Linked DNA regions of Homo sapiens. The protein of the gene in region 1 purifies or fractionates together with the protein of each later gene. This does not show direct contact. Each region holds a gene or a part of one and is shown in the gene's direction. Other genes may lie near its edges.

Region 1 (3,701 bases):
AAATACATTGTCCATAAGACTTGTACTCTGCTCATTCAACTCATGTGAGCAAGCTCAACTCACTCCACCTGGGTTAGGTAACAGAAGTGGAGAACTTCATAGTTCGTGTCTAGAAAATAATGTTTAAAGTTCTGGAGAATGAGGGTATTGCAGATTAAAAGGCGAGTTGACAAATGAAGGAGCAGTGAAAGATTTTTGGAAGAAGTGAAGAAGTGAAATTCTGAAAAGGTAAAAGAAAGAACCAGTATGTCACAGGGGCCAAGTCAGAGGACAGATAATAAGAAACAAAGTTGTATCTGAGAGTCATATATTAGGACAGGTGTCAGATATTTATTTTGGTGGCCAGATAAAAGCAAAAGGCCTAGAAACAGTGTGTTAGCAAAGTAAGAAGAAATGGTCCAAATAGGCAAGGATAAGGAAATCCAAAGGTTGTCTTTAAATATTTCTCAAAAGAGAAAGCCTTGAAAGAAGCATACAATAGAGAAAAAATAAATTACCAGTATTTATTATTAGAAAAGATAGAAAGACAGACAAATCAGTGGAGGAATTAAAACAGAGAAACTGGAGTTTATAAAACAGAGCCCAATCCTTGCCTTCTCTCCCTCCACTCAAATAGAAAAGGAGAATGGAGAAAGAGAAAGAAGGTATTAGGCTACAGTTTATAAGAGAGATGAGAAAAAAATACATTTGGGAATAGAGGGAAAGGGTCAAAAGGGGTCACATTTGGAGAAATATCTGAAAATGAGAAGGAGCAGAATTTTTGGAAACATTTTTTAAAGTCTGGCAACGCTAATTAAGCTGTTGATCTAAGGATTTGCAAATTGAGAGGTGCAATTATTTTCCAAATGATTTGTGACACTCTTATTAATTAGAATATATATTTTGTGAATATTGAAATCTGAGCCAAAACTAGTTAGCTTTATTAATATCTTAGGGAAAGAAGAGAGAAAGAAAGAGGGAGGGAGAGAGAGAAAGAAAGAAAGAAAGAAAGAAAGAAAGAAAAGAAGAAAGAAAGAAAGAAAAAGACAGGAAGAGGAAGAGAGAGACAGAAAGAATAAAAAAACAGCAATTCTGAGGATGAGAATAAATTAATGGTAGGTATTACATATGCATATACATATATATATCTGTACACATATATATGTAAATATGATTTGGAATACATCAGGATTGTGAACTTCCACTTGGGATAGCATAAAAGCAAAATATACCATACAATTTTTCATTTTACTCACAAATTTTACTCACAAATTCTCCTAAAGACATTTCACTAGGTCAGTACATTTCCGAGAAAGTTTTAAAAACGTTTCTTCTTTTATAGTCCCTAATTATCTTACCTGGAGTGTTATCAAAATGTCATACAACTGGAAAATGCAATTATTATTATAAAAATATCTCTGCCTTCTCTTGTGTAATGAAATTTATGGCATTAGGAGATGACATTTCAAGAGATTTTAGAGGTCAATGTAGAGACTCCCCCCATTCTTCTTAATTGAACAAACATGCATAAATCTAGGGTTTCAGGTAGAGAGCAGATGGGAATCTACAGGAAACTGTCTTCCATAGTGTATGAAAACCGTGTTTGTTGTGTGGTGAAGCAAAAGGAAACTATGAAGCGCACAGTCAATAGATTCAGCTAGTGAGTCCCAGCACTCCTTTCAGGCCCTCACTAGGATTAGCAGCCCAGAGTCATGCCAAGGCCACTGGTGCAGTACAAAGACAGTTCAGTGACAAGTTCCATCCATACCATGGAAGAGGGTTAAACTTGTGGCTGTTTTTGCCACAGCATGACCAGAGACATTCTCAATAAATGGCACTAGGAATGATGAGTTTTAGAGGGGCCTAAAATGTTCCAAACTTGATACTCACCACTGTACCTTTAAAGCACAACCACAGATATTGGTAAAAATGGAACAGAATTACCTCAATACCTCTTTAACTCATTCTGTATGAATTCATTTTGATGACAGACATTTTTTGTCACCATTTGGAATAAGAACTACAACAGCTTATGATTGAGGTGAGGAACTGCAGTCAAATGGCTTAGGTTCAAACACGAGTTCTGACACAAATCTAGGTAATTTTGGGCAATATTTTAAAATCTTAGTTTATTCACCAATTAATAGGAGTAAAAATTACCCCTACTTAATAGAATTATTATGAAGATTTATATAAGTAAATCATATAAAGTGCTTAGCACAGTGTGACTGGCCCACATGGAACATTTAATACTTGGTCTGCAGTATATGAAGAAAATGGTGTACATGTTAACTTAAATGGTTTCATTATTTCTCTTCAGGATTTTTAAGATGTGGGATCAGAATATATGTTACTATTTTGAGAATTAGAAATAATAAGAAAAACAGAATGTATACATTAAAAGTCATGCCTAAATTTCCAAAGAGTAGTTTTTTTAATGCCAGAGTTTAAATAAAATATTATTTTCCAGAGAGTAACTTTTCTAAAGGTCCTAAATTCTGAAAAGAGAGAAAACTACTGTTATAAACAAGTTTATTACTAAAAGATGCAATTCATTACTATGATTTATTATTATTTTGTACATGTAAACCTTGATAAATAAACAGCATCTCAACCCAAGTTTATTACTCATTGCACAGTTCAAAGCAACTATGACTCTCAAAATAGCAACAGAAGGTGGGGAGGGTCTTTTCCCTTTGTTTATATAGTATTTGCTAAAAATGAACTTTACTATTTTGTGGCTTTATAGGGTTACACCATTTCATTCTAAAGAGAAACAAAAAGTAAACCATTGGCCATGTGGCTTTCAAACAGTATTTCAAAGAGAATATTACTGAAATATTTTTGTGCTGTTACAGTCTTAATCAAACATTATTACAAAGATCAGATACGGAAAAAATAGAGGAGTCTCCCCTTAATTGTTCCCTTTGAAATAAATTGTTTTAAATTATTACAGAAGTTATAGCTGTATGTACATGCACATTTGTATATTTACAAGTCTCATGTACTTAATCTCAATATTGCAAATTAGCTAGGTTTACTATAGAGTTAACTGCTTTTATCTAGCATTTATAATCTTGTAGTATAACCTATTTTCAAATAACTAAAATTTAATTGATGTCATCAATGGTACACATGAAAATGATACAAATTTATAAACTAATAAAATGTAACTCGTCATTGATAGTAAATTACTAATGGGTAGATTTTATTGGTAATTCTTGGAAACAGATAATATCATTGTTTCCTCTCCCACCCCAATCTCCTGAGTAAATCAATGTAGATTTGCAAATACTCATGTGAATAACAAACATGCACAAGCCCATTTTTCCAATATTATACTTTGGTGTTTCAAATATTAGCCATCTTCAGAAGACAAAGAGTTAAGCTCATAAGTATGTAACTTCTTAATCACAACATGACCCTTTCTTGAAGTGTCAGGCTGTCATCATAAATTAGAAAAATAATCTTACCCTGTGGAGCAAGATGTTCATTGATAATGATATTTCAGTACATCGATAGGACATTTAATGTGATATTTTTGTATTTTCAAAATCTTTTGCAGCTTTTTAATTTCAGAATCCTAGAATACATCTAAATCTAATGTTGTTTATACAACTAGTTAAGATTAGGAAAAATGCCTATAAACAAGTATAGGTATATAATTTATATATAATTATTTAAAAATTTTTTAAATTAAGTTCCAATGTAAGTGCATTGGA
Region 2 (2,449 bases), on another chromosome or scaffold:
CTCCCTTTCGAAGCAAAACTCCTCCAAAGAGTGGTCTGCTCTGGAGTTAACAAGTCCTCTCCTCTGGCCTCTCTTAAGGATGGAGACTGAGTTAGCAAGTCCTCTCCTCTGGCCCCTCTTAAGGATGGAGACTACCCCAGACAGGCTCCCACCAGGGCCCTGAAGCTGTTCTTGTCAAGGTCACAGTGACCCATGTTGCTAAACCCAGTGGCCATTTCTCAGTCTTCATTTTACTTGACCTCTCAGTGGCACTGGCCACAGCTCTCCCTCCTCCTGGAAACACCTTCCCCTGCAGATGCCCAGGTCCTCAGCCCTGCCTGGCTGTCCTCTCACTCTCTGGCCACTCCTCAGTCTTCTCTGCTGATTTCCTCCCCATCTCCCTGACCTGTTAGCCCTAGGATTCAGTTCTCAGCCCTCTTCCCTGTCTACAGCTTACCCTTGATCTCATCCAATCCCATGTCATCAAATACCATCTATATACAGATGGCTTCTAAATTTACATCTTCAGACATCAGTCCCAAACTTGCATATTTAACTACATACTTGACATTTTGACTTGTGTTTCTAACAGTCATCTCAAATGGATCAAGTCCAAAGTTGGACCCCCGTCCCTCCTTCAGTCTTCCCCACTTCAATTAAGAGCAACTTTAGCTTTTCCATTTCCTCGGGAGTCATTTTTGACTCCGGTCTTCCTCTCGTGCTCTACAGCCAATCTATCAGCAGATCCCATTGGTTGTGCTTTCAAAATATACCTAGAATTTAAACCCAGGTTGTCTCACAATGGAGCCACTGGTTTCTAACCACTCCCCCTCCCCCGACTTATGCTGAAATTGCCTTCTCCACACCCACCAGCACCACAGAACTGCAGAGCTGGCTGGCTCGCCAGGCCTGTTCCTAAACTTTGACATTGTGAACTGACGCATGTTCCTTCCTGTCATCTTCCCCACAGAACCCCTCTATCCCAGGAGTGCTTTACTCTGGGTCCCTGGGCTTCCCTAGGGGGTTGCTAAGTCCTCTGAAGTAATGTGGGAGAAGAATCCTGGGTGGATGTGCATTTTTCTGGGGAGAAGGCTGACAGCTTTCATCAGATCTTCAGGAGGATCTGCGAGTCCCTCCAAAAAGACTGAGAGCCACCTGACTCCTTCGTTCCTCCTTGATCAGTACTTAACACTTTACATAGACATTCATGCATGTTCTCCAGATGTCCTTTATTTATATTCGTATTCATAAGTTCTCATACTACTTCTGGTCTTTTTAGTAGCTCTTTTAGGGCTGTAGCCACAGAACGGTCATTCTAGTGATTCTGAGCAGGGTGGAGAGGAGTGCAGCATCCCTGGGCGGGTGGGTCAGTGAAGACACGCCCAGCTCACCTGATATTCTGTGACTGGTTGCAGAACACAAGTCCCTCTCGAAATTGTTTAGGTTTGTGGGGAGATATCTGTAAGACAGAGTGAGAAAGCCTTATGGAAAAGGCCAAGAAGTGCTCAGCAGGCCTAGCAGAACGCTCAGGAATCCCACCCACACCATCCCTCATTTCTGGGTCTTTCTTCCTGGACATCTCAGGCCTCAGACCTGCATCCAGGAGCTGGAGCACCGCAGTGCTTCTGAACGCCTCTTCCAGTGGCACCTGCGGGCCTAGTGTCCCCACACCCGCTTGGGTGACAGAGGCCAATCAGTTGTCAAGCTTATGACTTCCAATCAGAGTGGTGGGGCCCTGAAATGACTTGCTCTTTGGGTCACTGTATGTAAAGCAATTTGCAGCTAGCGGCACTGGGCGGGTGACCCTGCCTGAGCCCAGTGAGGAGCAGGTCGTCTGCCTGCGGTGCTTCCAGGACCTGTTTGGAGACGACCACAATAAGAACGGGTTCAAAATGTTCGACTCCTCCAACTATCATGGCCAAGACCTGCTTTTCAAGGATGCCACCGTCCGGGCGGTGCCTGTCGGAGAGAAAACCACCTACCGCGGCTGGCTGGGGCTGGACTACGTGGCGGCGCTGGAAGGGATGTCGTCTCAGCAGTGCTCGGGCGCAGGTAGGACAGGCCCGCCCTGCCGCCTCCCCTGGTGCTATTCAGACCCCTTCACCCCAGAACCCTGAGGGAGCGGGGGGCGCTGCGGGTCCGGGGAGGCGGGTGGAGGCCCGTTCGCAGCAGTCCAGGTGGGGTGTCCCGGGAGGATTTTGGCCAGGAGGCTGCGGGCCGGGAGGGCGGGAGCCCGGCGGGTCTCCCAGACGGACCTGGGTAATGAGTGTGAACGCTCAAAACGGCGGCGCGGGGAGGATCTGGGGCCACGGCAGAGACATGCGTGTGCTGCCTTTCTGGAAAGAGCGCATCTGGAAGGGCAGCAGGGGAAAGGAGCACAAAGAGGGAGGCTGCGGCGAGTTCGGTCCCGAAAGATGCCCCCACCCCCACCCCAGAGCGGGCGCCTGAGGCGGCCACCGCGGCCCGGGCT

Evidence for each region.
Region 2: the proteins of SLC5A12 (region 1) and MELTF purify together in Homo sapiens (affinity purification with mass spectrometry; one large-scale study listed by BioGRID and IntAct). This does not show direct contact.

Annotation. Positions count from the first base shown.
Region 1 is NC_000011.10:26,666,489-26,670,189, reverse strand, and holds the end of SLC5A12 (sodium-coupled monocarboxylate transporter 2), read left to right. Parts: 3' UTR 1-3,170; downstream 3,171-3,701. UniProt on the Homo sapiens protein: Acts as an electroneutral and low-affinity sodium (Na(+))-dependent sodium-coupled solute transporter.
Region 2 is NC_000003.12:197,003,483-197,005,931, reverse strand, and holds part of MELTF (melanotransferrin isoform 1 preproprotein), read left to right. Parts: intron 1-1,187; exon of another isoform or gene 1,188-1,438; intron 1,439-1,572; exon of another isoform or gene 1,573-1,751; coding exon of another isoform or gene 1,752-1,832; coding exon 1,833-2,031; exon of another isoform or gene 2,032-2,330; intron 2,331-2,449. UniProt on the Homo sapiens protein: Involved in iron cellular uptake. Seems to be internalized and then recycled back to the cell membrane. Binds a single atom of iron per subunit. Could also bind zinc.